2 linked regions of the Homo sapiens genome follow. The protein of the gene in region 2 purifies or fractionates together with the protein of the main gene of each other region. This does not show direct contact. Each region holds a gene or a part of one and is shown on either strand. Other genes may lie near its edges.

The links.
Region 1: the proteins of PPP1R14C (region 2) and HMGCS1 purify together in Homo sapiens (affinity purification with mass spectrometry; one large-scale study listed by BioGRID and IntAct). This does not show direct contact.

The regions. Positions count from the first base shown.
Region 1 is NC_000005.10:43,306,592-43,310,412, forward strand, and holds part of HMGCS1 (hydroxymethylglutaryl-CoA synthase, cytoplasmic), read right to left. Parts: intron 1,254-3,821; exon of another isoform or gene 1,234-1,253; 5' UTR 1,175-1,233; intron 1-1,174. UniProt on the Homo sapiens protein: Catalyzes the condensation of acetyl-CoA with acetoacetyl-CoA to form HMG-CoA, which is converted by HMG-CoA reductase (HMGCR) into mevalonate, a precursor for cholesterol synthesis.
Region 2 is NC_000006.12:150,215,810-150,219,630, reverse strand, and holds part of PPP1R14C (protein phosphatase 1 regulatory subunit 14C), read right to left. Parts: intron 2,808-3,821; coding exon 2,775-2,807; intron 1-2,774. UniProt on the Homo sapiens protein: Inhibitor of the PP1 regulatory subunit PPP1CA.

The sequences.
Region 1 (3,821 bases), on a different chromosome or scaffold from region 2:
GGAACATTTTGGATTTTGGATTTCCAGATTAGGGCTGCTCAAATGGTATGTTTTCTCAAATATTCCAAGACCCAGAAAAATCCAAAATCTTTAACATTGCTGGTCCCAAGCATTGTTCAGATAAGGAAAATTCAATTTATATTTCAAACTGCCAAGTTTCTCCTCTATTATTTAGGCTTAGCCTCTCTGCATTAAACAAGGAGCTTTTGGAGAGCAGGAACCGTGCTTTGTTCATTTTTGTGTCCCCGGTACCCAACCCACTGTTTGGCATATGGTAGATGCTAATGTTGAATAAATGAAATGGTACTAGACTTCTAATCTAAAGTCATTAACACCCATAGGAAATCATAATCTTGAAATACAAAAAAAGCAGAATTGTAAGAGAAGCACTCCCTGACAATATGAGAAAGCAATGGCTGCAAATAATTAGATTACCAGTTGAAACACATTTGAAATTACTGTCCATTCTCACATAATTTTTTTTTTTTTTTTTTTTTGAGACAGAGTCCCACTCTGTTGCCCAGGCTGGAGTGCAGTGGCGCAATCTCAGCTCACTGCAACCTCCGACTTCTGGGTTCAAGCGATTCTCTTGCCTCAGCCTCCTGAGCTGCTTGACTTACAGGCACCTGCCACCAAGCCTGGCTAATTTTTTTGTATTTTTAGTAGAGACTGGGTTTTACCATGTTGGCCAGGCTGGTCTCAAATTCCTGACCTCAGGTGATCCACCCGCCACAGCCTCCCAAAGTGGTGGGATTACAGACGTGAGCCACTGTGCCTGGCCCATTCTTACATAATTTTAAACATTCATCCACAGCCCAGATACATATCTTTTGAGGCCATAATTTAAAAAGCACTAATGGCAGTCATGTTTACCTCTGATTGTTTCTGATTAAGTAGTCCATGTAATTACATTTTATTATAAGTACTTTTTCTCTTATGAGTGAACACTAATTTTTAAAATTTGTTTCTAGATTTTAAACATTAGTCTAATAAACATAAAATTAGTTTCCTGAAGCATTAAAGCATTAACAGAATTTTAAAGATGAGGTAGAACCCTAAAAGGGGTTTTAAGAACATATGGCACAAACAAATCGTTATTTTCTCTAGGATACCAAGTTTCCTCCTTCCATTAGAGAGGAATACTTTCCTTAAGCAGCATGACAGGATGTCATACCTGTGTGAAGGATAGAGAACTGCAGTCTCCAGGTCTGTCACTGTTTCCTCCTTCGGGCACTAGGAATTTCAAACAAGAACTGCTTTTAAAGTTATAAATCACTACCCAAATTCAAATACTAATGAATCCAATTCAAAGTGAGTTAAAATAAGCAATTCCTTATCCAATTACATTATGCAGAATAGAATTTGACATTTGCTTAGAAAAAATCATACTTAAAGCTTATAGAACATTTTCCCCCTTATTTTCATAGCCCTTATAGTGAAAGGTTCAGTCCTGGTAATAAACGGATATAAGAAGCCTACTATTGCAGGAAGGAATAAACAAAAAAACCTCAAGGAAATAAGAAGCCCATGTCACCAATTGAGGCTTTAAACCAAGGTTTTCAAGAATTGGGGGAAAGGAATATAAACAAGTTGTAATGAGTTAGCAAATTTCTAGAGTAAAGAGATATATGCAGTCAAGAGCCTGCACTGCATGTAACAGATTGTGGCTTTGGCAGCAATTCTGGACCTCAGTTTCCTCATCTATAAAATGAAGCTAATACAGTTGCCCTCCCCAGATCATTGTGAAGGATTGCTGAGATGATAAAATATGTGAAGACACTTTGTAACACAAAGCACCAATACACTGACTATTACCTTAGTTCTTATAGTTCTTATAAGTGTTTTTCAAAGAAAATAAAGGTATTTTTTCTAGCAAGACCTAATCATTTTCAACACTGCCACCTTCACCCTCCCAACCTTTTATAAAGTGATTTTCCCTCTTACTGCTTATGTTAAAAAATTAAGCATTTAGACAAAGGAGCATTAAACATTATTATGTAAATTAAGTAGAAATAATTTGCGAAGGTGACTGGAACATATTCTTCAGTCCATCTGTTTTGAAAGACTGATTGTTACTTGAGATGGCAACTTCTATGTTTAACACAGCATACACCATTTCCTCTGCTCTCTATTTAATTACTGGCAAATTTAGCATCTGCCCTTAATGGATTCACTGGTAACTACATTCGGATGTTATTAATATTTAATAAAGCTTTACTTTTTTTACATAATTACATAATTTAAGAGCTCTTCAGTCGTAGCGCCTTTTACTTCATTAACTAAGTTTACTACCCACCTACGCCCCCCTGCCCCATAAAAAGAAATAGATCTTGAGTTTTGTAGGCAAAGAATACTACAATATTCCAAAAATGTCTCTAATTAACTGTAATTATACATACTTTGAGAAAATAACCTATCTTTGTTCTTTATTATCTCAAATTATGCCTTTGTCTTCTGCAAATTAAGCAGACCACAGAGACCAGTTCTTGAAAAACAAGATTCCTTCTCCATGTTAAGACTACTTAAATAATAATATTTCTTCTTGATGTTCATGTATGTATATGCATTTGACACTACTTGTATCAAGGAAATTTTCCTTGAACTGCCTATATTCTGCCTTTCCTTGCACTGCCTATATTCCCTCAAATTTTTTTTTTTTTTTGAGACAGGGTCTCCCTCTGTCACCCAGACTGGAATGCAGTAGCATTCCAGTCACTGCTCACTGTAACCTCGACCTCCCAGGCTCAAGTGATCCTCCTGTCTCAGACCCCGCAAGTAGCTGGGACTACAGGCACATGCCACAATACACAGCTGATTTTTGTATTTTTTGTAGAGATGGGGTTTTGCCATCTTTCCCAGGCTGTTCTCCAACTCCTGGGCTAAACCAATCCACCCACTTTGGCCTCCCAAAGTGCTGGGATTATAGGCGTGGGCCACCTTGCCTGGGCCCCTCTTTCTATTTTGATTACTTAAATTGGAGAGGGATGTTAGGTGGGAGAGACACAGAGAACAAAGAAGAAACAAATAGAAGATTCAGAAAGGATTGCTGTGCTACTTAAGGATTTCTCTATTCTGGCTAAACCAGTATTGCCAAAGTCTCAAGCAGATCACAAGCTTATTTCTAACAGGTCTTTTCAGAGTAAGTGACAGAGGGAATCAACATGGGTCAAGAAGCAGTTAATGAATGGCAAGTAGCCAGGCAGGTTACCACAAAGCAGGTTTGCAGACTCATGGGATGAAATATAGGCACTTTGAGTCTGGCAAAGACTAAAACACAAGAATGATAAGACTGCCTAGGGCCAACCAGATTTATGCAATGGTAGTTTCTTCTGGAGTTTACTCAGTGTTCTGAATACTTCCTTCTGGCTCCCTCCTTAGCCTTGATTCAAAGAAGTGGTTGGAGAAGTTCATTGCCTACACATTTTGGTATGTAAACTATAAAATATAAACAGTTACCTATTGATCTTTCTCATTGTTACAGGAGATAAATCTAGGAAATTAAGAACAAGTTGGCAACCTTTCCTCCTTAGGAGCAAGCAAGTAAAAACTAATGTTAAGAAAGACTTGCTCAAACCTGTACACTCTGGTATAGTTCTCCAAGTAAAAAGCATGGACATCCCTGCCTCCTCCCAGAGTTACTGGTCTGCGTATCAGAGATTCTACTCATCTTCAAGGCCCTGTTCTAAGTCACCTCTTCCTGGAAGCTTTCCTCGATAAATCACACAGAAAATAAGTTTTCTAATCAGGGACCTGCACTTCTACAGAGGTAGGTCATTCATACCCAAGTCTACATAGCCTACTCTCTATGGAAAACTAGTTAT
Region 2 (3,821 bases):
GATGGTAATGATGTGATTGAACAGTCAGGAAATATGTTACATGTTTGACAAACACACTGGAGAGTTCAACAAAAAATACCAATTGGTATTAGACAAAACCAAAGACAAGCGTTATGGCCGGGCACAGTGACTCACGCCTGTAATCCCAGCACTTTGGGAGGCCAAGGCAGGTGGATCACTTGGGGCCAGGAGTTTGAGACCAGCCTGGCCAACATGGCAAAACCCCATCTCTACTAAAAATACAAAAATTAGCTGGGCTTAGTAATCCCAGCTACTCAGGAGGCTGAAGCACAAGAATCACTTGAACCTGGGGGGCAGAGGTTGCGGTGAGCCAAGATTGTACCACTGCACTCCAGCCTAGGTGACAGAGCGAGACCCTGTCTCAAAATAATAATAATAATAATAATAAAGGCAAGGATTGTCAACTCCAAGAGAAACAAAGGGCTATACAAAAAGGAACCATGATCATATTTACTGTTAGCTTAACAGTGAAAAACATTTGTTTAAATCATAGTATTATAAACCTTGACTACTAATTTAACAAAATACTGTTAAATAACTGATGAGGGTATAGATGAAAAGGAATTGTGTGGAGAGAGAGAGAGTGATCATCTTTCTCCTAAAGTCAATAAATGAAAAAAAAACAGTAAATGCATATTTAAGAATAAAAGAATAAGTAGGCCAGGCATAGTGGCTCATGCCTGTAATTCCAGCACTTTGAGAGGCTGAAGCAGGAGGATAGCTTGAGGCCAGGAGTTCAAGACAAGTCTGGGCAACATAGTGAGACCCAGTCTCTATAAAAAAATAAAAATAATTTAGCTGGGTGTGGTAATGCACGACTGCAGTACTAGTTACTCAGGAGGCTGAGGTGGGAGAGTTGCTTGAATACAGGAGTTCGAGGCTGCAGGGAGTTATGATTGCACCACTGCACTCCAGCCTGGGTGACAGAATGAGACCCTGTCTCTAAAAGAAAAAAAGAAAGAAAAGAGCAAATAGCAGGGAAGGGAAACAGCCAAAAGCGCAAAAGTGTTGCTTATGAAAATATAGAAATACAATACATAAATATAATATAAAATAGGAAAAGGGCCTGAAAGGTGGAGAAAGTCACTGTTACCTTTTTAAAATAAGCCTCAGAATTTTTTTTTGGGGGGGGGGGTTCAGATGTATTAGTATTACATTAATTTAAATATATACATATAATATTGTTTTCTTTTTTCTTTTTTTTTCTGAGACGGAGTCTCGCTCTGTCGCCCAGGCTGGAGTGCAGTGGCGCAATCTCGGCTCACTGCAAGCTCCGCCTCCCAGGTTCACGCCATTCTCCTGCCTCAGCCTCCCGAGTAGCTAGGACTACAGGCACCGGCCACCACACCCGGCTAATTTTTTGTATTTTTAGTAGAGACGGGGTTTCACCGTGTTAGCCAGGATGGCCTCGATCTCCTGACCTCGTGATCCACCCGTCTCGGCCCCCCAAAGTGCTGTGATCACAGGCATGAGCCACCGCGACAGGCCAATTTTTTTTTCTTAAAAGACGAGATCTCGCCATGTTGACCAGGTTGGTCTTGAACTGCTGCACTCAAGTGATTGGCCTGGGATTACAGGTGTGGGCCACCAAGCCTGGTCTAAAAGTATATATTTTGGTGGCTAAAATTAAAATTAAAAATCTCTATGACTGCAAGATGTAATCAAAGCTGGAGGTTGGAAGCATAAAGCTCAAATAGGTAACTAGTCCCAAACCAAGTCATTGAAATCAGACACTTGTAAAAGCATGCTTTCCTCCCCCCTTTTAATTAGACCTCTTCAAAAATCAGAAGTCTTATCACCATTGCTTTGATGTTACAAACAGACTTCAAAACATCTGACGGATCTTATAATTTCTCCAATTTATCAGAGGAAGAAAGTACTTCTCTTGCTAATATTTTCATAACTGATTAAAACCTTAATTTCTACTATGTGCTGTCAGTCATGAGAGTCTACATGAAATGCTTTAGTCTAATCACATTAATGCTCATTTTTATGATAATGTTTATACATTACACTTGATAAATATCTAAACAAAGCATAACATTTTTTCCCAATAAAGGTAACTCTTTGGAAAGACAGACCTGCCTTTACGCTTTTAAAAAATACATACCGATAGGCCGGGTGCGGTGGCTCACACCTGTAATCCCAGCACTTTGGGAGGCCGAGGCGGGTGAATACCTGAGGTCAGGAGTTTGAGACCAGCCTGGCCAACATGGTGAAACCCCGTCTCTACTAAAAATACAAAAATTAGCCGGGCGTGGTGACGCACGTCTGTAATCCCAGCTACTCAGGAGGCTGAGGCGGGAGAATTGGTTGAACTCAGGAGGCGGAGGTTGCAGTGAGCCGAGATCACACCACTGCACTCCAACCTGCGCAACAGAGCGAGACTCCGTCTCAAAAAAAAAAAAAAAAAATACATACCAATAAACCAATAGAATATATAAACCAGTTATAAACCTAAAACTTTTACTAAAATGATTCCAAACCCTTTCACAATTTCCTTTGAAGTTTGGCTTTTATCTAACACAAGCAACACACTCTGCTCCATTAATTTTAAGTATCTCTGAACTAGACATGTTTAGGCTTAGAAATAATGAAGTTAGAGCTATTCAAACATATGCACTCATGGATAATAATTGCTAATTGGTATACACACACTCAAACCTACTTATTGTGGTTTGCTTTAAAAATAGACAAATTGATTTAATAAAAACCAGTTCAAACATGGCATTTAGGAAAAGTGATTTGCTTACCTCTGTTGGTTTGTAGCAGTCTACAAGAGCTTCCTAGAATTAAACACACAGAAAATCAGTTTTATTATTTTAAAATTCAGCATTATTTTTAAGGCAAAATTAAAAATCATTTTATATTCATAGTATTATTTTATAATGGTAAATCAAGATTTCATACTATCTAGAAACGCACTTCATTTCAGCACCAGTTGGTAGTCTGAAGATAGAAAACGTTTAACCTTCATAAATTCTTCAGCCTGCATACACATGTGCTACATAGAAGTTTTTTGAACAGGAAAATATTTATTTTTTTTTTTTGCTACCATAGCATTGAAAACAAAATATAACCCTTGACCAGTTTTGTTTGTTTGTTTGTTTGTTTTGAGACAGAATCTCGCTCTGTCACCCAGACTAGAGTGCAGTGGTGCGATCTCAGCTCATTGCAACTTCTGCCTCCCAGTTCAAGTGATTCTCCTGCCTCAGCCTTCCGAATAGCTGGGACTACAGGTGTGCACCACCACACCCGGCTAGTTTTTGTATTTTTAGTAGAGACAGGTTTTTGCCCTGTTAGCCAGGCTGGTCTCGAACTCCCGACCTCAGGTGATCCACCCGCCTTGGCCTCCCAAAGCACTGGGATTACAGGCGTGAGCTACCATGCCCAGCCCCTTGACCAGGTTTTGAATGTCTTGCTGAGGAAAAAAGCTTCTTTTAAAAAAGGACAGGGATGCTCAAGCATCCATTAGGTTGCAGACTTCAGAGAGATGTGGACTAATTTAGTAGCTCAAATCCAGGATGGCCTTCCACAGGAACCAAATCCCCCTTTCCGGTTTTCCTTCAATTAACTGGATATAACCCGGCAGGATCCAAATGGTTTCAAACCCACTCCTCTGGTCAATGACTTTTTACCTCCTCTGTATGCACACGCGCATGCACACACCTTTCCTTTGGCTGCCAACTTGGTGGATATTCAAGTTGAGCCAGCCTGTGCAAGATGGTGGCACCCACACTGCACTCAGGAAGCAAGGGGTTTAAGTGCAATGCAGCCATAAACCAGCTTGGGTCCTCACC